7 linked regions of the Homo sapiens genome follow. The protein of the gene in region 3 purifies or fractionates together with the protein of the main gene of each other region. This does not show direct contact. Each region holds a gene or a part of one and is shown on either strand. Other genes may lie near its edges.

Evidence for each region.
Region 1: the proteins of ZBTB21 (region 3) and TESK2 purify together in Homo sapiens (affinity purification with mass spectrometry, with the first as the bait; one large-scale study listed by BioGRID). This does not show direct contact.
Region 2: the proteins of ZBTB21 (region 3) and CRTC3 purify together in Homo sapiens (affinity purification with mass spectrometry, with the first as the bait; one large-scale study listed by BioGRID). This does not show direct contact.
Region 4: the proteins of ZBTB21 (region 3) and CBY1 purify together in Homo sapiens (affinity purification with mass spectrometry, with the first as the bait; one large-scale study listed by BioGRID). This does not show direct contact.
Region 5: the proteins of ZBTB21 (region 3) and HDAC5 purify together in Homo sapiens (affinity purification with mass spectrometry, with the first as the bait; one large-scale study listed by BioGRID). This does not show direct contact.
Region 6: the proteins of ZBTB21 (region 3) and LRFN1 purify together in Homo sapiens (affinity purification with mass spectrometry, with the first as the bait; one large-scale study listed by BioGRID). This does not show direct contact.
Region 7: the proteins of ZBTB21 (region 3) and NAV1 purify together in Homo sapiens (affinity purification with mass spectrometry, with the first as the bait; one large-scale study listed by BioGRID). This does not show direct contact.

The regions. Positions count from the first base shown.
Region 1 is NC_000001.11:45,453,105-45,457,121, forward strand, and holds part of TESK2 (dual specificity testis-specific protein kinase 2), read right to left. Parts: intron 1-4,017. UniProt on the Homo sapiens protein: Dual specificity protein kinase activity catalyzing autophosphorylation and phosphorylation of exogenous substrates on both serine/threonine and tyrosine residues. Phosphorylates cofilin at 'Ser-3'. May play an important role in spermatogenesis.
Region 2 is NC_000015.10:90,637,409-90,641,425, forward strand, and holds part of CRTC3 (CREB-regulated transcription coactivator 3), read left to right. Parts: intron 1-1,037; coding exon 1,038-1,238; intron 1,239-1,326; coding exon 1,327-1,407; intron 1,408-3,633; exon of another isoform or gene 3,634-3,688; coding exon 3,689-3,791; exon of another isoform or gene 3,792-3,849; intron 3,850-4,017. UniProt on the Homo sapiens protein: Transcriptional coactivator for CREB1 which activates transcription through both consensus and variant cAMP response element (CRE) sites.
Region 3 is NC_000021.9:41,996,592-42,000,608, forward strand, and holds part of ZBTB21 (zinc finger and BTB domain-containing protein 21), read right to left. Parts: intron 1-4,017. UniProt on the Homo sapiens protein: Acts as a transcription repressor.
Region 4 is NC_000022.11:38,659,482-38,663,498, reverse strand, and holds part of CBY1 (protein chibby homolog 1), read right to left. Parts: intron 1-4,017. UniProt on the Homo sapiens protein: Inhibits the Wnt/Wingless pathway by binding to CTNNB1/beta-catenin and inhibiting beta-catenin-mediated transcriptional activation through competition with TCF/LEF transcription factors.
Region 5 is NC_000017.11:44,092,536-44,096,552, forward strand, and holds part of HDAC5 (histone deacetylase 5), read right to left. Parts: intron 1,300-4,017; coding exon 1,040-1,299; intron 951-1,039; coding exon 779-950; intron 672-778; coding exon 557-671; intron 272-556; coding exon 141-271; intron 1-140. UniProt on the Homo sapiens protein: Responsible for the deacetylation of lysine residues on the N-terminal part of the core histones (H2A, H2B, H3 and H4).
Region 6 is NC_000019.10:39,310,584-39,314,600, forward strand, and holds part of LRFN1 (leucine-rich repeat and fibronectin type III domain-containing protein 1 precursor), read right to left. Parts: coding exon 3,348-4,017; intron 1-3,347. UniProt on the Homo sapiens protein: Promotes neurite outgrowth in hippocampal neurons. Involved in the regulation and maintenance of excitatory synapses. Induces the clustering of excitatory postsynaptic proteins, including DLG4, DLGAP1, GRIA1 and GRIN1.
Region 7 is NC_000001.11:201,541,610-201,545,626, forward strand, and holds part of NAV1 (neuron navigator 1), read left to right. Parts: intron 1-4,017. UniProt on the Homo sapiens protein: May be involved in neuronal migration.

The sequences.
Region 1 (4,017 bases), on a different chromosome or scaffold from region 3:
GGGAGGCAGAGGCAGGCTGATCACCTGAGCCCAGGAGTTCAACACCAGCCTTAACATGGTGAAACCACAACTCTACAAAAAAAAATACAAAAATTAGCCAGGTATGATGCTGTGTGTCTGTAGTCCCAGCTACTCGGGAGGCTGAAGTGGGAGGATCACTTGAGTCTGGGAGGTCAAGGCTGCAGTGAGATAGCACCACTGTACTCCAGCCTAGGTAACAGAATGAGACCCTGTCTCAAAAAAAAAAAAAAAAAAAAAAGAGAGAGAGAGAGATAAACCCTCTCTAACATGGTTAATTGACTGTGACATGAAGGGTGCCAAAACCATTCAATGGGGAAAGGACAGTCTTTTCAACAAATGGTGCTTGTAAAATTTGGTATCCTCAAGCAAAAGAATGAAATTGGACCCTTACTTTATACGATATTGAAAAATTAACTTAAAATGATCAATAACCTAAATGTAAGAGCTAAAACTATAAAACTCTTAGAAGAAAACATTGTGGAAAATCTTCATGATATTGGATTTGGTGATGATTCCTTGGATTGACACAAAAAGCAAAAGGTAACAAAAGAAAAAATTAATTTGACTTAATCAGAATTTAAAATTTCTGTGCAAAAAAGGACACCATCATGGGAGTGAAAAGACAAACTACAAATTGTGAGAAAATATTTGCAAATCATATATCTGGTAAGGGATAAATATTCCCTATATATAAAATATATAAATACAATGCAATTCAAAAATGAGCAAAGGATTCAAATACACATTTCTCCAAGAAGATATACAAAAAAGGTCAACAAGTACATGAAAAGATGCTCAATATCACTAGTTGTTTAGAAAAATGCAAATCAAAACCACAATGAGATACCACTTTTCACACCAAATAGGATGATTACCATGAAAAAGAAAAATAAGTGTCAGTGAGCACATGGAGAAACTGGAACCCTTACATATTGCTGATAGAACTGTAAAATGGCACAACCACTACGGAAAACAGTCTGGTGGGTCCTCAAAAAGTTAAACATAGATTGACTAAGTGAAATAAGGCAGTCAAAAAAAGACAAATACTGTATGTTTTCACTTACATAAGATATCTAGGGTAGTCAAACTCTTAGAAATAAAGTAGGATAGTGGTTGCCAGGGGTTGGGGGGAATGGAGAAATGAGGAGTTGTTTAATGGGTACAGAGTTTCAGTTTTGCAAAATGAAAAAGTTCTGGAGTTTGGAGGCACAACCATGTGTACATACTTAACAGTTGTGTTAAGTATGTACTTAACATAATTAAATACTGTTAAGATAGTAAGAAAAAGATTTATTTTTTATTTTTTTATTATTTTATTTTATTTTATTTTTCCCCCAGAGACAGAGTTTCGTCATGTTGCCCAGGCTGGTCTCAAACTCCTGGGCTCAGGCAATTCTCCCGTCTTGGCCTCTCAAAGTGCTGGGATTACAGGCGTCAACCACAATGCCCAGCCAAAATGGTAAATTTTGTATGTATTTTACCATAATCTTTTCTTAAACATAGAATTACTCATATGACTCAGCAATTCTATTTACAGCTAAATACCCAAAAGAATTGCAAGCAAAGAACCAAATAGATACCTGTATATCAATATCCATAGCAGCATTAGTCACAATAGCCAAAAGGTGGAAACAGCCCCACCATCGACAGATAAAATATGACATATATACACAATGCAATATTAGCCATAAAAAGGAATGAAATTCTAATATATGCTACAACATGAATAACCCTGAAAACACTATGCTAAGTGAATTAACTCTAACACAAATGGATAAATATTATATTAACCCACTTATATAAGGTACCTAGAATAAGCAAATTCATAAAAACAGCAAGTAGAAGATATTAGTGGGTGGGAGTGAAACTGCCCCCACAGGGTTCACAAGAAGTGCATGCCAGGTTCTGGACAGAAATATAGTTATAATTAAGCATTAATCAGGCCGCACTTTGGCCCACTTCCTGGTTGCTAAAAGTCATATAGCACTAGATACTGACTATTTGCATTCCTATTGTTCCTACAGAATAGGATTTCTGACATTAGGGTCATAAAACTTTAAGATTTTATTTCTATCCCCATCTTTCCTATAACAGGATCTCTGACATTATAATCATAAGGCTTTTGTTTAAGGATTGCTTAATATGTTTTTCAGACCCCTGAATTCCAGCAACCAGTTTGAAGTCCCCCACAGAGGAACGGGATCTGCAAGAGAATACAGCTTCTTCATCTCCCTGTCCCATGACTTCATCCTGTACTCTTTAACAAATAAACAATTGCCACACTTCGGCCCACTTCAAAACCCTTAAAAAACCTTAGCCCCCATCTCTTACGGGAGATGAATTTGAGGTTTTCCTCCATCTCCTCATTTGGCGGCCCTATGATTAGACCTTTCTCTGCTGCAACCTGGAGTCTCAGCTTATTGACTTGCTGTGTGCATTGGGCAATGAACCCATTTACAGTTACAGAAGGGAGAATTAGTGAGTTAACGTTTCATGGGTACAGAGATTCTGTTTAGGTGATGAGAAAGTTCTGGAAAAGGATAATGGAGATGGTTGTACAACATTGTAAATGTAATTAATGACACTGAACTGTACACTTAAAAAATGGCTAAGATGGTAAATTTATGTTATATATATTTTACTGCAATAAAAAGTATTTTAGAGAAAGACACATTAGAAAGAAAGAAGCTGGAAATGGTACATAGAGACAACTCTATGGAGTTGTTTTGGTCCAAAAAAAAACAAGACATGGGAAAGTATACCTATTAATAAAAGAAACAATAGGGGCTGGGTGTGGTGGCTCTTACCTGTAATCCCAACACTTTGGGAGGCCGAGGCAGGCTGATCACTTGAGCCCAGGAGTTCAAGAACAGCCTGGGCAACAAGGTGAAACCCCAACTCTCCAAAAAATACAAAAATTAGCTGGGCATGGTGTCATGCACCTGTAGTCCCAGTTACTCTGGAGGCTGAGGTGGGGGGATCATCTGAGTCCAGGGAGGTCAAGACTGCAGTAAGCCATGATCACACCACACTGCACTCTAGCCTGGGTGACAGAGCGAAACCCTGTCTCAAAAAATAAAATAAAATAAAATAAAATAATAGAATAAAATAGGTTGGGCGCGGTGGCTCATGCCTATAATCCCAGCACTTTGGGAGGCTGAGGTAGGTGGATCACTTGAGGTCAGGAGTTCAAGACCAGCCTGGCCGAAATGGTGAAACTCTGTCTCTACTAAAAATACAAAAATTAGCCAGGTGTGGTGGCAGGCGCCTGTAATCCCAGCTACTAGGGAGGCTGAGGCAGGAGAATTGCTTGAACCCGGGAAGCAGAGGTTGCAGTGAGCCAAGATTATGCCACTGCACCCCAGCCTGGGCAACAGAGTGAGACTCCATCTCAAAAAAAATAAAAATAAAATAAAATAAAGGGGAAATAACAGAGCCAAAATATTTGGGTTTTTTTTTTCCTTAAAAGAATTTTTTTAACATGTTAATGGTAATACTTAGTAGTGAAAATACAATGTAGAAAAGAGAGGGGAGAATTTCTTAGGCAATGCCTATTAGTAGGCAAGTGGAAATGGAATGTACAATATAAACAGAAATAATGGACTTAGGAGCATGAGTAGTTGATCCATAGTACAAGGTATAAAGGCCAAGTAACTGGGTAAAGATGTGTGTTGATAGCTATTTGTAGTAATGGAAGTCTGCAGAAGTTCTCTTCTGCTTGCTTCAATTTTCTCAGTGAATTGGGAAGCAATTCATTAATTACTGACAATGAGGACTAGTGAGGAAATACTGGGATTTGATGAGAGAAGAAAAGGTACAAAATACTCTCTTGAGGGAGTGAGTGAAACAGGGAAATATGATTGCTTAGGAGCATTATGGGCTCATATTTTTTGAGACAGGGCCTTGCTATGTTGCCCAGGCTGCTCTCAAACTCACAGCCTCAAGCGAGCCTCCTGAGTAGCTCGGGCTACAGGTGCATGCCATTGTACCCAGCTA
Region 2 (4,017 bases), on a different chromosome or scaffold from region 3:
TGCGGGGAAGGGGGAGGGATAGCATTGGGAGATATACCTAACGTAAATGACGAGTTAATGGGTGTAGCACACCAACATGGCACGTGTATACATATGTAACAAACCTGCATGTTGTGCACATGTACCCTAGAACTTAAAAAAATAAAATATTAAAGAAAAAGAAATTTCTTCTAAACCCTGTGTTTTCAGTAAAGTGCCTCACCTTCTAATATCCAGAGACCCTTAGTTTTATTATCTCGAAAGTAGAACCTTCCAGTCTCCTGGCAGGTGGCAGGATGGTGGGGGCCAGTGCGCAGAAGCACACTCAAGGCAAGGGCTCTGCAGGTCCAACTGCCCCTTACACAAACTGTGACCAGAATCTCCTGGTTTTAGCTTCACCGCCTGCTCCCTGCTGTCCCCAGTCCCAGAGCCCTGTGGGGACTGAGTGCTGTCAGTGAGATTGCCTCCTGGTTTTTCCTCACTGCCAGCCTAGCATCGGGTTTTCTCAGCTCTGCTAAGCCAGCTGCCACCGGGCCATCTGCTGCTCATTTTCCAGCTTTTGTTGCCATTTTCTTCTCTCCCGTTATCTTTGTCCTCGTGTTGTTTGTTATCATTTAGTGTTCTGTGCTGTTGTTTAGTGTTTTTTATTAATGCTTATTGCTTGTTAATGTTGTAGTGTCTTGTTTTAACAGGATTTGGGGATGACAGAGCTAAGGGCCTTTTTCAATTTTCCACTTTTAACCAGAAGACACGGCTATAAAACAAAACAAAACATGATTTTCACGGAGAAAACTGAAAGGAAATTGGTTAAATTGGCTGTTTTCTTGTTTAGTTCTTTTAAGACAATAGAACTTGTCATTGAATGGAACATGCTTTGTGGGGAAGTAAAATTTGAGATATACTTTGAAGGATGAGAAACGGGCTTCTCACAGCATTGCACAGAACACCGCGGTGAGGAAAATCTCAGGCTTCCTCTCACTCTGACATTTCCTAATCCTAAAGGACTTAACGCCAGAAACGCAGAAGCTCATTAGTGGCTTTGTGTGTTTGTTTTGCAGATGGTGTCCTCAGACCGAAGCCAACTTTCCTTTCTGCCCACAGAAGCTCAAGCCCAGGTGTCGCCGCCACCCCCTTACCCTGCACCCCAGGAGCTCACCCAGCCCCTCCTGCAGCAGCCCCGCGCCCCTGAGGCCCCTGCCCAGCAGCCCCAGGCAGCCTCCTCACTGCCACAGTCAGACTTTCAGCTTCTCCCGGCCCAGGTGAGTTCTGGCAGGAGCGTTGGTGCAGAGGGAATGCTTGTTTTGCTCTGAGTTCCAAGCTAAATGATCATCTCCTTATTCCCTGAAGGGCTCATCTTTGACCAACTTCTTCCCAGATGTGGGTTTTGACCAGCAGTCCATGAGGCCAGGCCCTGCCTTTCCTCAACAGGTGGGTGATCGCCCCTGCCTTCTCCTCCCTTGGTGCATAAACTGTACCATTTAGGTTGTTCATTCTGTAGAATTCAGAACTGAGCAGACCAGACATGCCACTTTCCTGGTTCTGGTTGTGTTCTGTGGCTAGAAGAGCCTTTCATCTTCTTTGGCCCTAAAATGCTTTCTCTGGCTGCCTTATTTAGTATCAGGCTTCAGCAGAGGAACTATTGGAACAATCGGCAGGAGACTTTTGATGACACTCTCGTTGTAGAACTGTAAAATCATGAACACTGGAAGGGACACAGCACCTGCCTCCTCAGCGCCCTCATGTTGAAACTGAGGCATAGGGAGAGTGGCGCCTGCTCCCACCGCAGAGTCAGAAGGTGGCGCCGCATTTGGCCTGCACCCAGGCTGGTGCACCCAGCACAGCGTGGGGCCTCCTGGGGAGAGCTCAGTCCTGGGGAGTGAGGGGAGTGCGTTCCGTAAGGTATTTTCAACTCGGCCACTTTCTTTTACAGTTTAGTTTTTTCCTAACATTGACTATTTTTAATATTCTAGATTTTATAGTATTCAATAGTATTCAATAAGTATGGACTGGGCCCTCCGATGGATTAAGGAGTGGAAGAAGGGTTGAACAGGTTCCAGAACTTTTTTTTTTTTTTTTTTTTGAGACAGAATCTTAATCTGTCGCCTAGGCTGGAGTGCAGTGGCGTGATCTCGGCTTACTGCAACCTCCACCTCCTGGGTTCAAGTGATTCTCATGTCTCAGACTCCTGAGTAATTGGGGTTACAGGCATGTACCCCTACACCTGGCTAAATTTTATATTTTTAGTAGAGATGGGGTTTCACTTTGTTGACCAGGCTAATCTTGAACTCCGGACCTCAAGTGATCCACCCGCCTTGGCCTCCCAAAGTGCTGGGATTACAGGTGCGAGCCACTGTGCCCAGCCAAGAACTTAATAAAATAGCTGGGCATAGTGGCTCACGCCTGTAATCCCAGCAGTTTGGGAGGCCGAGGCGGGCGGATCATGAGGTCAGGAGATCGAGACCATCCTGGCTAACACGGTGAAACCTTGTCTCTACTAAAAAATACAAAAAAATTAGCTGGGCGTGGTGGCAGGCACCTGTAGTCCCAGCTACTCGGGAGGCTGAGGCAGGAGAATGGCGTGAAGCCGGGAGGCGGAGCTTGCAGTGAGCTGAGATCGCACCACTGCACTTCAGTCTGGACAACAAAGCAAGACTCTGTCTCAAAATAAGTAAATAAAATAATAATAATAAAATAAATTAAGATAGCTGTTTCCTAAGCAGGCCACAGATGAAGCTTTGTGGCAAGAACCAATCCTCCTTGCCTCCCTGTTTCCCAAAGAGCCATTTTAGTCTAGGTGGGAATCACCGTCTCCCTGAAAAATGATAGACACTTCTTTTGAGACTTTTTTTAAAATGGCTTAGAAAATTAATTTCAGGAAAGGAACCTAAAATTGGCACTGGTTATAACCAGTCCTCATAGAGGCTTTCTCATAGGGAGGAGCTTGCCTGAGTTTCCTCCTTCTGAGTGTGAAAAGGAAAGCCTTCCCCTTTCTCAGTTTTCTAGAAACCAGGGAAGAGGCCAGGTGCAGTGGCTCACACCCATAATCCCAGCACTTTGGGAGGCCAAGGCCAGTGGCTTACTTGAACTCAGGAGTTTGAGACCAGCCTGGGTAAAATACAGCAAGACCCTGTCTCTAAAAAAAATACAAAAATTAGCCAGGCATGGTGGCATGTGGTCCCAGCTATTTGGGAGGCTAAGGTGGACGGATTGCTTGAGCCTGGGAGCTGGAGGTTTCAGTGAGCCGAGATGGCGCCATTGCACTCCAGCCTGGGCAACAGAGACCCTATCTTTAAAAAAAAAAAGAAGAAAGAAACCAAGGAAGAAGAGTCCATACTTCCTTGGTTATAGACAGAGCCTTTGAAGGGTTCCCACAGAAGGCAGTTTGCAAAGGCCTTGGTGAGGCTGAGGACAGATGTCTGAGGGGCCACAGAAACCATGAGCATTGGTGTCTCTTGGGATGGTGTAGTGGGCTGGGGAAAAGTCACCACGCTGTGGACCTCAGGGACCCCTCCTCCACCCCAGCGTCTGCCTGCCTGACAAGAATATTGTGCATGCATTACCATAAGAGCAAAGCACTCTGGGATCCTGGAAAGAAGGGAATATGGATTAGTTTGCAAGTCAGGTTTTGCTCTGGGAGCACATTGCAATACTCACTTCCTCCTTGGAAACAGAGGTGTGGCCTTCCTCACATGACCTTCGATGCTTCCAGGTGCCTCTGGTGCAACAAGGTTCCCGAGAACTGCAGGACTCTTTTCATTTGAGACCAAGCCCGTATTCCAACTGCGGGAGTCTCCCGAACACCATCCTGCCAGGTGAGCGAGCTATCCCTCAGCTTCTTTACTGCTTTTATGTTGTTGTGTGTTCAGGAACCTTCATAAGAGAGTTTAAACAACATAATATTATATAAAGCAAAAAGTTAACGTTCCCTGGGTCGACTTGACTTTTTGAGATGCAGGTGTCCAGCCTCAGAGACCGTGACACAGGGCGGTGGGCCTGGTAGTCAAAGCCTTTTCTGAAAGATTTCATCTGGCCCAGTGC
Region 3 (4,017 bases):
TTTGGTCTGTGGACTTTTGAGTTAATGCTGAAATTAGTTAAGACTTTGGGGGACTGTTGGGAACGCATGATTGGTTTTGAAATGTGAAGACATGAGATTTGGGAGGGGCCCAGGGTGGAATGATACAGTTTGGCTGTGTCCCCAGCAAAATCTCATTTTGAATTGTAGCTCTCACAATTCCCCACATCTGGGAGGCACCCAGTGGGAAGTAACTGGATCATGGGGGCAGGTCTTTCTTATGCTCTTCTTGTGATAGTGAATAAATCTCAGGAGAGCTGATGGTTTCATAACGAGGAGTTCCCCTGCACAAGTTCTCTCTTCCCTGCCACCATGTGAGATGTGCCCTGCACTCCTTGCCTTCTGCCATAATTACACAGCCTCCCCAGTCACATGGACCTGTGAGTCCACTGAACCTCTTTTTCTTTGTTAGTTACCCAGTCTCAGGTATGTCTTTATTAGCATTGTGAAAATGGACTAATTACACCTGGGTAATTTTTTTTATTTTTTATTTTTAGAAATGGGGCCTCACTATGTTGCTCAGGCTGGTCTCCAACTCGTGGGCTCAAGAGATCCTCCTGCTTCAGCCTCCCCAAGTGTTGGGATTACAGGCATGAACCACTGAGCCTGGCCAAGAGACCTTTAAAAATAGAAAAGAATTTGGAAAGCAAAAAATTATTTGCTAATTACTAATGAAAGTGTTTACGCCAGGCACGGTGGCTCACGCTTGTAATCCCAGCACTTTGGGAGGCCAAAGCGGGCAGGTCACTTGAGGTCAGGAGTTCGAGACAAGCCTGGCCAACATGGTGAAATTCCATCTCTACTAAAAATACAAAAATTAGCCGAGGGTGGTGGCATGTGCCTGTAATCCCAGCTACTCAGGAGGCTGAAGCATGACAATCACTTAAGCCTGGGAAGTGGAGGTTGTAGTGAGCCAAGATTGCGCCACTGCACTCCAGCCTGGTTGACAGAGCAAGACGTTGTCTCAAAAAAAAAAAAAACAAAAAAACAAAAAAACAAAAAAAAGATTAGAAGTGTTGAAGAATAAGTTTGTTTTCTTTCTTATGCTATTTGCCTTGCAATCTCATGAATACTATTTTCTTACCAAATCACATTTTCAACAATAGCACAAAGGAAACTTTAGCCTAGTTCTAAATTTAATTAAAGAGTTTAAACTGATATTTCACTGAAATGCTCTTCAAATCTAAACATGAGAAGAGGAGGCCTAGTGGTAGAGTGCAAGCTCTGGTGCCAGACACTTGGGTTGAGATGCCAGTTCCTTGCAGGCTGGCTGATTGTCCTTGGGTGTTTCTGTTAGCCTCTCGGTGTGGCAGATCCCTCACCTGAGTTAGGAATGACAACTGTGCCCTCCTCTTGCAGGGTTGTTGCAAAGAGTTCATCTAAAGAAAACTCAACAAATGTGCACTTAACTTTCAGAAATTGCAGGATTAATAGGCATCTAATTCAGTATCAAAGAAAGTGGGCAGATTAACCCCACCATACTCTCGATGCAGACAAAGCCATTTCATGCAGAGACAATGCCTGACTCTGTGTATTTGACCCTTTATTTAGGCTTCTGTTCCTCTAACACCTCATCCTTTTCATTTTTTTTTTTTTTTTCTAGACAGGGTCTCGCTCTGTTGCCCAGGCTGGAGTGCAATGACTCAGTCTTGGCTCCCTGCAACCTCTGCCTCCTGGGTTCAAACGATTCTCCTGCCTCAGCCTCCTGAGTAGCTGGGATTACAGGCGTGCACCACCACGCCCAGCTAATTTTTGTATTTTTATATAGTTGGGGTTTCACCATATTAGCCAGACTGGTCCCGAACTCCTGACCTCACGTGATCTGCCTGCCTCGGCCTCCCAAAGTGCTGGGATTACAGGTGTGAGCCACCACAGCTGGCTCATCCCTTTCATTTTATAATGCCATATTTTCTTTCAAATATTGTTAAGACATTTATTTTTAAGATTACATGAATCCCAAGTAACTATCTGTGACGGTTTTATCTTTCTCTAGCGGGCAAACTGTAGATGAACCAAACTTGACCCCAGCTCATTTGTAGGTTCTCTTCTGGCCTTTGCTGGTTACCCCAGCCACCAGGCTCTTCAGGAAGAGCCCAGAGTCTCCTAGGCTGTCAACCTGGGAGTGGCCACACACGGTATACAATTCCTTCTGACTCCCTGATAAGATGCGACTCAATTTAACCGACTGAGACACAGGACTTTGCTTCTAGAGATGATGCCTTTAGCCTGTCCACAAACAACTACTTTGGTCAGACTGTACCAAGTTTCTGTCCACTCCCGCCTACCATCCTTTCAAAGTAAATGGTAAATTTTAATTCCTCTATTTTTTTAAAAAATTATTCTATTTGTGACTACTTGATAATTTCCCTTCCTTTTTCTTCTCTTAGTCATTTAAATTTTCCTTAATCCTACTATACTTTCTTTACATCTATTTGTATGAAGAAACCCTTACCATCTTTTACAGAGATCAGCAGAAAAAGACATAAGCTTATAATGTTACACGTATTGACTCAGCTGGGTACTGAGGAGTTTTTAGCACTAATAATTTTTGACAAAGCTAGTTCAGATGTTGCCACAGGGAAAAGCTGTAACACAGAATTAAAGGTACAGATTTAAAGGCTTGGATAGTCTTTGTCAAAAGGGGTTCTTAAACTCAACTTGGTGGTTTAAAACTAGCAATTAAAAAATAAATGACTAGGACAGAGTAGAAAATATCAGAATGCATCAAATGTCATAAGGCTAATTATGAGCTTGAGAAACTTTTGTTTCTATTATATATATGTACATACCCACATAAGCAAGCATGGACTGGATTGAGATGTAAAATGTATTCCTTCCTGTGGGTCAGTCAAAATATTTTGAGAGCCACTGTTCTAGGCTAACCAACCTCTTTGAGCCTCAGTTTACCTCGCCATAAAATAAGGATAATACTAGCAGCTACCACATAATGCTATTGTGGGAATTAAATAAGATAATAATAGTCGCTACCATTTATATAGCACCTAACTGTACAGGAACCTACACTACAAACTATACCAGAAACTTCTCATGTCATTCATTCATCAAAATGGGATCAAAGAAGGTGTGAAGGAGGCGAGGGATGAGCCATGGAGATAAATGGAGGAAGAACATCACAACAAAGGGAGAAGCTAAGGCAACAGGAGGGATGGAGCAGTGTGTGCTGGGAGCCATGTAAGATGACATCTGAGAGGCAATAAGAAGTAAGACCGTCTAGGGCTGGGAGACCTCCAGAAGAACTTTATTTTTTACTATGGATGAAATGGACAGCCATTGAAGATTCTGAGCAGAGGAATGACAAAGACCTGAATTACATTTCCAAAGGATTGCTCTGGCTCTGTTGTTGAGATTAGACAACAGAGGGTAGGTTATGGGGGAAGCTGCGGGCCAGCTTGCAGTCCACTGTAATGACCCAGATGAGAGAGGATGGTGGCTGGGACCAGGGTGGTAGCAACGGAGGTAAAGGCAGAGTCATTAGAATTTCTAGTGGACAGACTGCAGGAGAAAACAGAAGGTGTGGAGTTAAGTATTCTGCCAAAATAACTGGAAGGGCATCCTTAGGAGAGATGGGGTTTGACAGAAAAACCAGGAGTTCAGATTTTTTAAAGAATTCAGTTTTGATATCCTACACGTGAGCAGCAACCTGTTCATCAATGTACCCTTTATGAGCCTCCATCTCCGCCTTACTGTCCCTACTTCCTTTCTTGTGCTTCCTGGGATCAGTTCCCAAATAAACGTCTACCTCTGAATCCTTGTCTTGGGGTCTACTTTTGGGGGAATCCAAACTAAGACACAAACAGAACTCGAAGCACAGGTAACGGCTAACCACTTCACACTAAAACCTCCCTTCCAAGGGCTTGTCCTGGCCCTTTAGTGTGAAGACTAAACCAAGGGGAGTTTTCTACATCCCTGGACCTGAAGCAAATGGTATTCCACAGACCGTATGCATCCCGTTGCCAAAAAAGCAACATTTGTGTCCCT
Region 4 (4,017 bases), on a different chromosome or scaffold from region 3:
GTCTCGAACTCCCAACCTCAGGTGATCCACCCACCTCAGCCTCCCAAAGTGCTGGGATTACAGGTGTGGGCCACCGCGTCCGGCCTCTTTTTGCTTTCTTAATGCAACCTCCGCCTCCCGGGTTCAAGCGATTCTCCTGCTTCAGCCTCCCAGGTAGCTAGGACTATAGGCACGCACCACCACATCCAGCTAATTTGTGTATTTTTAGTAGAGACGGGGTTTCACCATGTTGGCCAGGATGGTCTCAATCTCTTGACCTCGTGATCCACCTGCCTCGGCCTCCCAAAGTGCTGAGATTACAGGTGTGAGCCACAGCTCCCAGCCAGAAGTTCTTAATTATAATGAAATCCAATTATTTATTTATTTATTTATTTATTTTGAGATCAAGTCTTACTCTGTCGCCCAGGCTGGAGGGCAGTGATGTGATCTCAGCTGACTGCAACCTCTGCTTCCTGGGTTCAAGCAATTCTCCTGCCTCAGCCTCCTGAGTAGCTGGGATTACAGGCGCCTGCCACCACACCCAACTAATGTTTGTACTTTTAGCAGAGATGGTGTTTCGCCATGTTGGCCAGGCTGGTCTTGAATTCCTGACCTCCCAAAGTGCTGGGATTACAGGCATAAGCCACTGCACCCAGCCCAATTTATTATTATTTCTTAATGATTAGTGCTTGTATTGTATTTTTAAAATGTTTGCCTACCCCAGGCTGGGTATGGTGCCTCATGCCTATAAATCCTAGCACTTTGGGAGGCAGAGGCAGGCAAATAACTTGAGTCCAGGAGTTCAAGACCATCCTGGGCAACATGGCAAACAAAACCCTGTCTCTACCAAAGATACAAAAAATTAGCTGGGCATGGTGGTGTACGCCTGTGGTCCCAGCTATTCAGGAGGCAGAGGTGGGAGGATTGCTTGCGCCCAGGAGCCAGAGGTTGCAGTGAGCTGAGATTATGACACTGCACTCCAGCTTGGGTGACAGAGTGAGATCCTGTCCCCCGCCCCCCAAAAAAAATTGCCTACCCCAAGGTCATGATGATATTTTCTGTTAACTTCTGGTAATATTATTGTTTGCATTTCACATTTGTGACTATAATTCATCTTGAATTAATATTTGTATATGATGTAAAACAGGGGTTAGTGTTCTTTTTTTCCCCATATATCACCCAATTTTTTATTTTATTTATTTATTTATTTTTTTTTTTGAGACAGAGTCTCATTCTGTTGCCCAGGCTAGAGTGCAGTGGCGTGATCTCGGCTCACTGCAGCCTCAACCTCCCAGGTTCAAGCGATTCTCCCACCTCAGCTTCCCAAGTAGCTGAGATCACAGGCACGCGCCACTAGGCCCAGCTAATTTTTGTGTCTTTTGTAGAGACGGGGTTTCGCCATGTTGCCCAGGCTGGTCACGAACTCCTGAGCTCAAGCGACTGGCCCAACTTGGCCTCTCAAAGTGCTGGGATTACAGGCCTGAGCCACCACGCCTGGCCTATATTATTCAATTTTAATTTATATCACGCACACAGCTTACAAAGAATCCTTCTAAGAAGCCATAGACTGAAGAGAACAACAATGACGGCACAAGTGAGCAAAAAGAAAACAGCCGACCTCTCACTGCTCCTCCTGGGCGTAAGGTCTTCCTTCACTACATTATGAAATAAAAGCAGTAACGGGTTAACTGGATCTGACAAGAAATGGGCCAAAAAAGGCAGGAGGAGGGGTTGGTATCTTTTCAAGACTATTTGAAACAAGGTTTTATATCCATTATCATTAAAAGAGAATTCAAAGTATGAATCCATCACAATCAGCAAGATATGTATCCAATGAGAACAGGAAAAAAAACTTCCAGGCTGTTTTCATTAAGGGAGAAATTGATCTCACTAAAATTAATGATAAAAGTTAAGAAGCTTCTTTGGAATGTATGTAAAACATACAATACATAAGTATATGTATATGTAATTTATAAATAAATGAAGGTATTTGGGGTTATGTGCTCATGACAGCTTTCCTGGTAGTTACGTGTTTGAATTAAAAACAATCATACAGTGGCTCACGCCTGTAATCCCAGCACTTTGGGAGGCCAAGGCAGGTGGATCACCTGAGGTCAGAAGTTCGAGACCAGTCTGGCCAACATGGTGAAACCCTGTCTCTACTAAAAATGTACAAAAATTAGCCGGGAGTGGTGGTGCTCACCTGTAATCCCAACTGCCTGGGAGGCTGAGGCACAAGAAACGCTTGAACCTGGGAGGCGGAGGTTGCGGTGAGCCGAGAACACACCACTGCGCTCCAGCCTGGGTGACAGAACGAGACTCTGTCTCAAAAATAAAATAAACTAAAATAAAATCATAAAAATAAAAAGAATCATAGACCAGCAACTTAGGGGATGGCATTTGGGCCTGGGCACAGCACTTTAGAACTTGGACAAACCAGAGTGCTTCCAGCTTGGTAGTGGAGGGGACGGGGTGGGGACCAAGATGCAGAGGGGGGTTGATGCTATGTCACCATCCAAAACACATTGTAAGGCCCTGGCACTGTTTCTGCTGGAGAAGAGAAAGAGGTTAGAAGAGGGAAAAGCATTAATCTTATGTCTGTAATCTTATGTAAAGGACAGAACAAAAATAAAATAGGAATATCCATGAATAAAGTTCTGGAGACTGAGGCAGGAGAATCGCTTGAACCCAGGAGGTGGAGGCTGCGGTGAGGGAGATCGTGTCATTGCGCTCCAGCCTGGGCAACAAGAGTGAAACTCCGTCTCAAAAATAAATAAATAAATAAAGATGAAAATGCTAGGGTTTGGGGTAGTTTCCCAATTTTCCCAAGGTGCATAGCCATGATCAGTTGGCTGAAGGTGTATATGCGTCTGCGTGTGTGTGTGTGTGTGTGTGTATGTACCTGTACACACACATATATGGTATACGTGTATATACATATGGTGTGTGTGTGTCTATATACACATGTATATACTTATCCTTGTATTAGTAACATGTGAGGCACATCATTAAAAGATGCATTTTCGGCCTGGTGTGGTGGCTCATGCCTGTAATCCCAGCACTTTGGGAGGCCGAGGCAGGTGGATCACTTGAGGTCAGGAGTTCAGGACCAGCCTGGCCAACACAGTGAAACCCCGTCTCTACTAAAAACACAAAAATTAGCCAGGCGCGGTGGCATGAGCCTGTAATCCCAGCTACTCGGGGGGCTGAGACAGGAGAATCACTTGAACCTGGGAGGCAGAGGTTGCAGTGAGCCAAGATCACGCCACTGCACTCCAGCCTGGGTGACAGAGCAACACTCCATCTCAAAAAAAAAAAGTTAAAAAAATGCATTTTCACTCATCATATTGGCAAAAATTAAAAAGATGAATAATACCCATGGTTGATGAGGATGTGAAGAAAAAGACACTGTTATTACTGGTGGAATCAGAAGATGCTATAATTCTTTCAAGGGCACTCAAAACTTGGCAAAATTGTCAATGTGTACACTTTTTGGACAGCAACTCTACTTCTAAAATTTTACACTCCAGAAAGACTTGGACATGCTCACACCCAATGTTCTCTATTGTTGATAACAGTAAAAAATAAGAAACAATCCAAACAATTTGGGTGTAGCCAAATAATTTGTGGCACATTCTTTTTTTTTTTTTTTTTTTTTGAGACAGAGTCTCACTCTGTCGCCCGGGCTGGAGTGCAGTGGTGCGATGTCGGCTCACTGCAAGCTCCGCCTCCCAGGTTCACACCATTCTCCCGCCTCAGCCTCCCGAGTAGCTGGGACTACAGGCGCCTGCCACCACACCTGGGCAATTTTTTGTATTTTTAGTAGAGATGGGGTTTCACCGTGTTAGCCAGGATGGTCTCGATCTCCTGACCTTGTGATCTGCCCGCCTTGGCCTCCCAAAGTGCTGGGACGACAGGTGTGAGCCACCGTGCCCGGCCAGCACATTCTTATAATAAAATTGTGGGCCTAAGCCGGGCACGGTGGCTCATGCCTATAATCTCAGCACTTTCGGAGGCTGAGGCAGGTGGATCACTTGA
Region 5 (4,017 bases), on a different chromosome or scaffold from region 3:
AAGGTAACCGAGGTTCAGATACGCGCACAGCAGCACACATCTGCAGCTGAGCCCACTGGGGTCAGGGCTGACACTGCCACAAGCCCACCTCTGCCTCCCAGGAGCCATATTCTGGGAGGCCAGGTGGGGGACTCACTCACCTGTTTTGCGGAGGGGGAAGTCGTCTCGACTGTCGTAGGGCCCAGGCAAAGGCAGTTTGTAGGAGGGAGGCGTCCCAGGGGGGCCGCTCTGGGGAGGGGAACTCTGGTCCAAAGAAGCATGGTGGGCTCCCCTGGGGTGGGGGGGGGGTGGGGATGGAAGCAGATCTAGGTTATCACCCAGTCTGCTGGACCTGCCACCTGGCAATCTACATTTATGAAAAATCGTTTGTATATAGGAAGAGGACGTGGATCTTGGGGAAGGAATGAGGAAATAAACCAGGGATGGGGGTCCTGTCTCTAAGGAGAGATTGCAGGGCCCGTATATGGGCACGGGGAAGAAGCCCCTTGCCATCCTATAGCCAGGCAGCCCCTGAGCGGCTCACCTATGCCCACCCATGCCTGCCCAGGGCCATTACCAGCATTTGGGGTGCTGTGGGAGGGAATGGTTGAGGCCGCCTGGTGTGGGCTCCTTTGACTTCGACAAGAGGAATTCCTGGAGCCTCAGCTTTACCTCAGTGCTGGCAATGGCACCTGCAGGACAGGGCACAACTGACCTGGCTGCTTGGGGCCAGACCCCCCATGGCAGGGGCAGGCATCACGGGCGGGGCCCTACGAGGTCCCAGGAGGCCCTGCCTTACTCTCTTTGCTCTTCTCCTTGTTCCGCAGGATGAGCAGCTGCTGCTCCAGCCGCTGCTTCTCCAGCTCTTCCTGCCGCTGCTGCTCCCGCTGCCGCTGCTGCTCCAGCTCCTGCTGCCGCTTGGCTGCCAGCATCTCCTGCTGCTGCTTGGCTGCCAGCATCTCCTGCTGCTGCTGCAGGGGCATGGGAACGGAGGCACAAGTGAGCCAGGCCCGGGCGGGGATCGGAGGTCTGGGCGGCCCCCCGCACCCCCCTCGCTCACCTTGAGGTGCTTCTGCAGCTGGACCTCATGCTGCCTTGTCAGGTGGTCATGCTGTTTCTGGAACTCAGCGAACAGGAGCTGCTTCTGCAGCTGCTGCTGCTGCTTGAGCGCCAGGAGCTCCTGCTGCAGTTGCTGCTCCCGCAGTGTGGGGTCCACAGAGCCCACCAGAGCCCCCCGTAGCTCCACAGGGCTGGGGCTGCCTCCACCCCCACCCCCCATGGAACTGGGCATGGCTCTTGGCAGCACCGGCTTCACCTCCACTGTGGGCAGAAGAGACAGGAAGGAGTTAGTGGGCCCAGCCCCAGACTCCAGTCATGCCTGAGGCCCAAAGGCTACCACGCAGGATTCTAGGAGACCCAAAGAGAACAGAGACAGAGAGGAAGTCAAATCCCTCTGCTCCATGGATGCAACATTTTACCTTAATTAAATGAGGCTGAAGCCATGAACTTCAATAGGAAAATACAGGCTGAGCACGGTGGCTCACACCTGTAATCTCAGGTTAGTTTGGGAGGCTGAGGCAGGCAGATCACCTGAGGCCAGGAGTTTGAGACCAGCCTGGTCAACATGATGAAACCCCCTCACTACTAAAAATACAAAAATTATTTGGGCGTGATGGTGCACACCTGTAATCCCAGCCACTCAGATGGCTGAGGCATGGGAATCTCTTGAACCCCGGGAGGCGGAGGTTGCAGTGAGCCAAGATCATGCAACTGCACTCTAGCCTGGGTGACAGAGCAAGACTGTCTCCAGAAAAAAAAAAAACAAAAAACAAAAAGGGGGAGGCCGGGCGCGGTGGCTCTTGCCTGTAATCCCAGCACTTTGGGAGGCTGAGGCGGGTAGATCACGAGGTCAGGAGATCAAGACCATCCTGACTAACATGGTGAAATCCTGTCTCTACTAAAAACAAAAAAAATTAGCTGGGCGTGGTGGCACACGCCTGTAGTCCCAGCTACTCAGGAGGCTGAGGCAGGAGAATCGCTTGAACCCTGGAGGTGGAGGTTGCAGTGAGCCAAGATCGCACCACTGCACTCCAGCCTGGGCGACAGAGCGAGCCTCCATCTCAAAAAAATAAAGAAAATGTGCATAAGCATGAAGCTGTACCTGACAGATTGTGACTACTCGACGCATTTTATGTATCTGTGTGTGTGTGTGTATATATATGTGTGTACGTATGTGTGTGTATATATATATATACACACACACATACATATGTGTGTGTATTTATCTCTCTACCTATATATATATCAGAGACAAGGTCTTGCTCTGTCGCCCAGGCTGGAATGCAATGGCATGATCGTGGCTCATGACAGCCTCGACCTCAAGCAACCCTCCCACCTCAGCTTCCCAAGTAGCAGGGATTACAGGAGCATGCCAATGCACCAGGCTAATTTTTAATTTTTTAGTAGAGACAGGGTCTCACTATGTTGCCCAGGCTGAATTAAACTCCTAGGCTCAAGCGATCCTCCCACCTCAGCCTCCCAAAGTGCTGGGATTATAGGCGTGAGCCACTGCCCAGCCTTCAACACATAATATTATCATTGATAGTCAACATCTCTGGGCATTTTACAATGACTCATTTAAATATCACAGTTACCCTATGACTTAGATGCTATTATTACCCCATTTTACTGATGAGGAAACTGAGGTTTAGAGAAGTTTAAGTAGCAACCAGACACAGCTAGGTGATCCAATAACTAGAATATGAGTCCAAATCCTAAGCTTTTAACCACTGTGCCCGCTCCCATTTCTCAACACCGTGCCCCATGCAAAGCCTCATACTAGAAGAGAAACTGAGGCACAGAGGTTGGTTCTAGGACTGACAGTGCCCTTGGTAACCCCAGGAGAGGCTGGTGGAGACCTTCTGGATATCTCTACCCTCTGTCCCCTTCTGGGGCCTCATCCCTATCTGGGGCAGACTGGGCAGGAGGGAGAGGCTGTGGGAATGGGGGTGGGGTGGGAACAGGAGGCCTCGGGGAAAGGGGGTGCAGGGCTGCACCAAGCCAGGGACAGGAGGGGGCTGGGAGTCAAGACTCGCTTCCTTTGCTGGATTATCTCCTTTCAACAGTTTTATTGTAATTACCCTGAAAATGCCGCTATATATAGAGTGAGCCAAACAGCAGCTGTGCCTGGGGGGAGGGGGAATAAGAGGATGGGCGGGCAGGCAGCAGGGAGGAGGTGGGAGGAGGAGACAGGAAAGGAAAGGGAATCAGACAGGAAGAAGGGTAACAGCAGGGGGAGGGCAGGAGCTTCGGCAGAGATCTCAGAACTCTGGTCTTACGGAGAACCGGCTGGGGAGAGGAAGGCTGCTGGGGAGGGGAAGGCAGTGGAGGGCCTGCTGGGTTCCAAGACCTTGGGTCCAGTCCCCACATGGACAATGGGCCGAGTGGCTCAGGGAGTGCACGAAGTTCCAATGGGCTTATGGGAGGGCTAGGTCTCCACTTCTTTGTACCTACACACAGTTCTCAGGTCACTGCATGTCACTCCTCACCACTGCCCTGTGGTTGCCAGGACAACTGGGCAAACACCACACCAGCAGGGAGCCCCAAGCCCAGCCCAAGCCCCACAAAGTCTCCAGCCAGGAAGGGGAAGGCAGGATACCACTGCCTGGGAAGGCGGAAGTGAGAGAGGCAGGCCAACCCATTCCTGTTTCTCTTCTACTTCTTTCTCCAAAGAAAGCCCTCACTCTCCTCGCTACAGCCCAGGGAGGTCACGAGGGGCTGGGAAGACTCCTGTGGCAAAGTGGCCCACTCCAGCCCAGGCCTGAGAAAAAAGGACCCCGAAATCCTTCTGGCTACCAGTATCTTCTGCCTTCATGAGCTGGCCTCTCTCCAGACCACCCCCCAGCATTAAGAGGCGAGAGAGGGAAAAAAAAAACAAAAAACAAGTTTTGGTTTTTTTTTGTTTTTTTTTTTTTTGGAGATGGAGTTTTGCTCTTGTCATCCAGGCTGGAGTGCAGTGGCACAATCTCGGCTCACTGC
Region 6 (4,017 bases), on a different chromosome or scaffold from region 3:
CCCGTTCCACATTGATTGGCATGGCCAGGATGCAACCTCACAAGCTCTCTTCTCCAGCAAAGACTCTTGGTGGGTCCCGGGAGACAAGGACTGCCCCTTCCTCTTCGTGGGACCATGCAGAACAAGCTCCACCCCCTCTGACAGGCCACATCCCCACCTCCGAAGGCCTGCTTATCTCTCCGATGCTTCCGCTTCCCCTCCAGCAGAGCCACCTTCTGGCCCTGAAGCTCCACCTCTGTCATCCCACCTCCAGGAGGTTCTCCCACTACCAAGAGCCACCCTCCCACCAAAAGACTTCCAATCAGGGCCCCGCCCCTTCATAAAGGTCCACCCACTTCTCCAACTCCACTCTACCCACCCCTGACTGCCATTTCAAAGACCACTGCCACCCACCCCAGCCACCCTCGGCTGCCCTGGCTTTAAGCCTTCCTCCTCCTCTCTTCATCTCTCCTCTCCAGAGCCCTGGATTCCACTTGCTCCTTCCCCTAAATAGCCAGTTGCTAGGGGCTTCCCCCACCCCTTTTCAAGGACAGAGGCTGGCTCCTTAAGAAAGCTTCAGCCCAAGTGTCTCTAATTGGCTGCAGAATTAAAGCAAGCAGCTAAGCAGGCTTCTGGTTGGCTGCCACCTCCGCCCATGACAGCGTGAGGAAGTTAACCCCTGCGGCACCATAGCATAGGAATCTGCAATGGGGGTTGGAGAACTGGAACTGGGGCCCTACAGGGAAGAGAAGAGTCCCAGGGTCTGTTGCCCAGCTGGGGACAGGGGGCCATCAACATCTGCATCCATGCAGGGTCTGGGGGCTTGTGAACCTCCCCCACCCCACCATGTGGTGGCCATGGCTCAGAGCAAAGGAAAGAGAGGGACAGAGAAGTGGAGAGTCACAGAAGCTCAGAATTATTTACAGAAATATATTATCCATCTCCCTTCCAAGCAGTGGGTGCCCAACAAATGTGTGTCAGTGTATAAAGGACAGCTTTGCTACTTTCTGTGTGACCTTGGGCAAGTGACATCCCCCACTGAACCTCAGTTTTTCTGTCTTTGAAATGGAGAGGGGGTCATCACGCCTTCATAGCGGAGCTGGGAAGATCAAGCTTGGAAGTTCGTTGTGAAGGTTTGTGTTTTGTTCATTTGTTTGTCCTCATGTTTGTAAGGCTGGGCCAGGATCTAACCTATCTCAGTAGGCCCAGGGCCCAACACAAGATGGGCACACAGTAGGCATCTACTCAGTGTTTGGGACCAGAATCAAAAAGAGAGGGAAATGAGGAAGACAGAGACAAAAGAAAAGGGAGGCTTTTTTTTTTTTTTTTTTTTTTTCCAGAGGGAGTCTCGCTCTGTCACCCAATGGCGCAATCTCCGCTCACTGCAACCTCCGCCTCCCAGGTTCAAGCGATTCTCCTGCCTCAGCCTCCTGAGTAGCTGGGATTACAGGCACGTGCCACCACATCTGCCTAATTTTTGTATTTTCCGTAGAGACAGGGTTTCACCATGTTGGCCAGGCTGGTCTTGAACTCCTGACCTCAAGTGATCCGCCCGCCTCAGCCTCCCAAAATGCTGGGATTATAGGCATGAGCCATCGCGCCCGGCCAAGAGGCATTTTTTTCATTCAACCAACACTGGGAAAGCACCTACTATGTGCCACACCTATGGCCAAGAAAACACTGGAAAGGCAGAGATGGAGGCCAAGAGGCAGGTTTCTCGGTGAAGATCTGACAGCCAGGAGCTGGGGCTCTCCACAGGTAGGGAAACAGCTCCAGCCCCGCTGGCATCTCCAGGTGAAGCCAAGCAGATGACTGAAGCATTTAACTGGTGCTCTACAATGTGCATGAGGGAGGCAGAGCTAGAAGGAGAGACATCCATGTGGCAAACTACCATTTATCAAGTGCCTACTGTGTGACAATTCTGTGGCAGAGAGCCATACTAAAAAACTACCAAGATGGGCCAGGTGCAGCGGCTCACACCTGTAATCCCAGCACTTTGGGAGGCCAAGGCAGGAGGATCACTTCAGCCCAGGAGTTCAAGACCTGTCTGGGCAATATAGCAAGACCTCATCTCTACTAAAAATTTTTTTAAATTAGCCCAGTGTGGTGGTGCACACCTATAGTCCCAGCTACTCTCAGGAGGTAGGAGGATTGCTTGGAGCCCAAAAGTTTGAGGCTGCAGTGAGCTATGATCATACCACTGCACTCCAGCCTGGGGTGACAGAGCAAGACCCTGCCAAAAAAAAAAAAGAAAAAGAAAAAAAAAAACTACTGAGATGGAGAGACATGGCAAGGCCAGGACTGCAACTCATAGTGTACTATGGACCACGACCTACTGGGCTATAAGCTCCCTGAGGACAGGGTCTGGGTGGTTTCCCTGTGTCCCCAGCACCCAGCTCAGGAGTTTGCACAAAGCAGGGGCTCTGTGCCTAACGAGGGCAGAGAAGGTAGAGACAGACAGAGAGGTGAAAGGAGAAATAAGGAGGCGATGGGAGAAAATAACTCTTTTTTTAAAATGTCTGTTGACACCGTATGGTCTGTCCCCACCAGGGCAATGGCTTCAAACCCAAGTGAGGGTGGAAATAACATATTTTTCTCATACGTTTTGTTTTCTGTTTCTGTAATGTACCCAATGTGTTGGTTCAGTAGTACTGGTATATAATTTATAAATATAAATGTCGCTGTAGGCTAGGCACGGTGGCTCACACCTGTAATCCCAGCAATTTAGGAGGCCAAGGCAGGCGGATCACTTGAGGTCAGGAGTTCAAGACCAGCCTGCCCAACATGGTAAAATCCTGTCTCTACTAAAAATACAAAACTTAGCTGGGTGTGTTGGTGGGTATCTGTAATCCCAGCTACTTGGGAGGCTGAGGGACGAGATTCGCTTGAACCCGGGAGGCGGAGGGTTTCAGTGAGCTGAGTTCGTGCCACTGCACTCCAGCCTGGGCAATAGAGTAAGGCTCAGTCTCAAAACAAACAAATAAATAAATGTCACTGTAAATGTGTGTGTGTGTTTCATGCTCCAAAATGTTTAACTGAAGAGGTGCACAATCAGATTGTTGTGGGGAGCAGTGATATCGACCATGAGCCCCATGAGGGCAGGGTTCATGCTGAGCTCAGTCACTGTTAGGACTCCAGTGCCCAGCCCTGGTCGGGTTCATGTAGGTGCTCAGCGAATATTTTCTATAAGCACGAAAAACAGAGACAGTGAGAAATAGAGAGAGGAGACAGGGCAAAGGAGGGCGGGAACAGCTCTCACAGCCATCTAGAACCCTGGCTGAGCAAGAAGGCCAAGGGAATGGGCAGGTGGGAGGGAGGGTCCCCCTGGGCTTGGGAGGAGGCCCTGGGACTGCAGCACCCGCACCCACCTGTAGACGAGGGAGTCATCAACGGAACTGTTGTACTGAACCTGGTACATGCGTATTCCGGGCACAGGCCTCTGGGCTGGCCAGCGGATGAGCACGGAGTTCGAGGTGAGCTCGGCTGCCACGAGCCGACGCTCAGCCGCAGAATCGTTGGCACCTGGTCTGCCCGGCGTGGCGATGTCAGAGGAGCCGGGCTCGGTGAGAGGCGGCGGGGCAGCCGGCGGGGGTGCCATCAGAGGCAGAGGTACCACGCACACCTCCACGGGCGCCGTCGCTTCCCCAGCAGCATTGGAGGCGATACAAGTGAAGGTGCCACTGTCCCTCAAGGTGGTGATGGTCACATCCAGCGTCCCGTCCCCCCGGACCCGGGTCCGGCTGGAGTTCCCCAGCAGCCGCCCATCAGGTGCCACCCAGTGCACCACCGGCTCGGGGTCACCCACCGCTCGGCAGCGCAGGCTCACCGCCTGGCCTTCCACCACCAGGGCCCGGCCCCCCGCCTGCCGTGTGATCAGCGGGGGCTCACACAGGAACTCCTCCTCGGGGATGGACCAGAAGTAGCGGTCGGTGAGGTGTTCGGGCGTGGCGCAGGTCTCTAAGTCGTCCTCGCGGGTCAGCCGCCGCAGCCAGAGCAGCTCGCAGTTGCAGTGCAGGGGGTTGCCGCCGAAGCTGACGG
Region 7 (4,017 bases), on a different chromosome or scaffold from region 3:
CTAGAAATATGAAAATTAGCCGGGTGTGGTGGCAGGTGCCTGTAATCCCAGCTACTCGTGAGGCTGAGACAGGAGAATTGCTTGAACCCGGGAGGCAGAGGTTGCAGTAAGCCGAGATCATGCCATTGCACTCCAGCCTGGGGGCCAAGAGTGAAACTCCATCTTTTTTTTAAAGGAGTGCTGTTTTTCCTTTCTTGCCTAATCTAGCCCCCTCCTGAGTCCCTGTGAACCTCTGGTATCAACTCAGTTTGGGCCCAGTAGAAAGGAGTGGCCTAGAATAGAAAAATCTCCTATCCATCTTTTACAATTTGTCTCTATTTTTGCCTTCCTATTTCCAATCAGTGTCACTTCCCTCTTCTTTTAAAGTTCTTTTGACTTCTTGAAGGGTTTGGCCTTTAAGAAAAACCAGAATGTCAAAGTTAAAAGGATCTCCACTCCTCCCAACCCCTGCTCTTCTCCCCTTTACAGGCAAGAATCAAGGCCCACTGAAGGGAAGGGATGGGCTCAGAGCTACACAACTGGGGTACTGCAGAAGCCCGCCTAGAATGCAGGGCTCCTGGCTTTCAGTTTAGGGCTCATTCCCTTTCAGCAAATCACTGGGAATTTTTATCTTCCTAGCGTTTCCATCTCAGCAGATGTTACTTACCTCTTAGCTAGAGAGAGGAACAGAAACATATTAGGGTCAAGACAGCTATCTCTGTGATGGAAGCATCTATCAACTTTTCGAGTCTCTGGAACATGGAGAGCTAAGAAATGTGGCAATACTTGGCAAACACTTCGTCTTTCTGGCCCCTAGTCACACACAAAAAATAATAATTAAAAACACTTTTAGTTCCTTCTTCAACTTAAAAATACCCCTCCAACTAGTCTAGCGAAAAACACCCTCCACAGTAAACCGTTTCCTGGGCCTCATCTGTTCCCTTAACCTCCTGGGAAGGCTGACTCAGGCCTGATTTCCTCCGAGAGGCCTGCGATTTTGCTTCCCAGCATCCTGTGACTCTTGAGACGTGAAGCGAGGCAGGATGGCTGAGACCCAGGCCACTCTGACCTGCCTGTGGATGTGGTTCAGGTTCTTACACATGTCCTGTGCAGTTCACACTACCACCCCATCAAATCTATTTGCTCTACTTAATTTTAATATGAGATGCACTAATATGCATATAAAATTAAAGGCTCTGATGCATGTGCCTCTGCCAAGGACCGTTACTAACAAGATGATTCCACTTCAAAAGACTGCAAGACTGTTCTGATATCCAATCCTCAGATGCTCTGAAAGCTTTCATAAATGGAATTGTTTCTTAATTTCCTTTTTGGCTTGTGTATTACTGGTGTGTAGAAACACAGCTGATTTTTGTGTGTTGATCTTGTCCCTTGCAATTTTGCTGAATTTATTAGCTCTAGTAGCTTTTTTGTTTCTGGATTCTTTGGGATTTTCTATACATAGGATCATGTCAACTGTGAATAGAAATAGTTTTACGTCTTTCTTTCCAATTTGAATGATTTTTATTTATTTTTCTTGCCTAATTGCTCTGGCTAGAACTTTCAGTATAATGTTGAGTGGCAGTGGTGAAAGCAGACATCCTTCTCTTGTTCTTGATCTTAGGGGGATTTCTTGATTTTAGCCTTTCACCAGTGAGCGTGATGTTAGCTGTGGGCTTTTCATAAATGTCCTTTGTGTTGAGGAAATCATCTTCTATTTCTAGTTTTCTAATCATTTTTTTTTAATCACAAAGGGGTGTTGAATTTTATGTCAAATGCTTGTTTTCTGTATCACTCGAGATAATCCTGTGGCTTGTTTTTTGTTTCCTTCATTGTGTTAGTGTGGTGCCTTACACTGATTGTTTTTCTTAAGTTGAATCACTCTTTTAGTCCTGGGATAAATCCCTCTGAATTTTTTTTTTTTTATCTGCAAAGTTTCATTTTTTTTTCCCCTGTAAAAAGACAACAAAATTTGACTAAGTGCTAACATTTTACATTAGGATGGGTTGATGTATTTAATTATACTTTTCATTATAATTAGTGTACTTTAAACATCTAACAATTATATTGTGGTAAATATGTATAACCTACAATTTACCATTTTAGCCACTTCTAAATGTACAGTTCAGTGGCATTAAATGCATTTGCATTGTTGTATAACCATCACCTGTAGCCATCTCTGGAACTTTTTTACCTTCCCAAACTTAAACTCTGTACTCATTAAAGAGTAACTCTCCATTCCCCTTCCCTCCTCCCCAAGGCCCCGGCAACCGCCATTTTACTTCCCATCTCTATGAATTTGTGAACATTTTTTAATAACTAGAAGTTAGGCATTAAAGGGTTAAAGGGCTGTATCTTCCTGTCTTCCAGTTTCCCACCAACTCCCTCCAGCCGGAGGGGCCACCACTGGCCCTGATGCAGAGATGAACTGATTGCTGGTCATCCTGAGACTCAGAGGGCACCACGCCCAGCCTCAGCGCGGGCTTCATTTCCTCTAGCTCAGGGATTCTCCATCTTGGTTGCACATTAGCACCACCTGGGGAGCTTTTAAAAATGACCAATTCCTGGGCCCATCCCCAGAGATTCAGCTTCACTTGGTTTGGAATGTGGCTTCAGTGTCTGTCATTTTTAAAAGCTCCCTAGGTGATTTTGATGCACTGTGAGGGTTAGAACTACTCAATGGTTGAGCTGATTTACTCGCTGGAACCCTTGACTGGTCACAGCTTTCAATGACGCAATTCCCTCCCCATCTGGTCGGTAATACTGACCCACTTTACATCCCTTCCCTGATTTTAAAATCCATTTGTAAATAGAGTAAATACCAACTTCTGTAAAATGAAACTTTCAAAGTTGGAAAGAAACTTAAGTGTCATGTAGCTTTTTCTATTCCAGATACATCAAATCCCCCTAAAACATCCCCCTCAGAGGTCATCCAGCTTGGACACCTCTGTTGCTGGGGCATTCCTGCAACACTATGTTGAAATCATCTTATTCTATATTTGGACAGCTCTGTCTCTCAGAGTTCCTCATTGTATTAATCTGTCAGGGATATGACTTCCACCCATCGCTGAAAGATCCCAAAAGCTTAGTGGGCTTCACCAAAATGCATCCCTGAATAAAGTGGAGGATATTCAAAATAAGTCATGCAGAATAAGTGTGATTGCCTACAGAGTGTCAGCCTTTCAATATTTGGGAACAACTACCATGCATCTGTCCCCATCTTTTCTTCTCTGGTCTCAGCAGCCCCACTTCCTTCAGATTTTCACTGGATGTGTCCCCATGTTTTTTCAAGGAAGGTTGATATATGACGTAATAGCAAGATTGTGGACCATGACATAACTAAGACTTGAACTCAAGGTTCAAACATTGACTTTGCACCTGAAGTCCTTAGCGAGATGAGCATTTAGGAAATATTGGCAATTGAAATTATATCCTCCACATGAGCATCATCGCTACACTCTGTGTGACCTTGGGCAGGCCATGGAATCTCTTAGAGACTCTGTTTCTTCCCCAGGAAAAGTGGAATGAAAATGCCTTACTCCTGGGACAATGTTTTCCAACTTGCCTCAGCTTTCAGTCCTAACCTCTTCCTTCTCCTCCTCGTCATTCCACAACCCCACACCTGCATAGATTCCTATGATCTGGCAATTTCAAAAAATACAGTCAAAGAGTGATTGCATGAATCAAGTGAGACCATGTCAGACCTGACTCAGTCTCTGGGATGCTCAATGTGTGTGCTTAATAAATGCCAGATTTAATCTTTTTTCTTTTCTTTTTTTTTTTAATTAATTTATTTATTTTTATTTATTTATTTTTTATTTGAGACAGAATCTCTCTCTCTGTCACCCAGGCATGTAGCTTTTTCTATTCCAGATACATGTTGGCCAGGCTGGTCTCAAACTCTTGGCCTCAAGTGATCTGCCTGCCTCTGCCTCCCAAAGTGTTGAGGATTACAGGCGTGAGCCACTATGCCCAGTCTCATCCTATTTCTTACTCACCTTCCTCATTATATGCATCACCCTTTAAATGCTAGTTTCT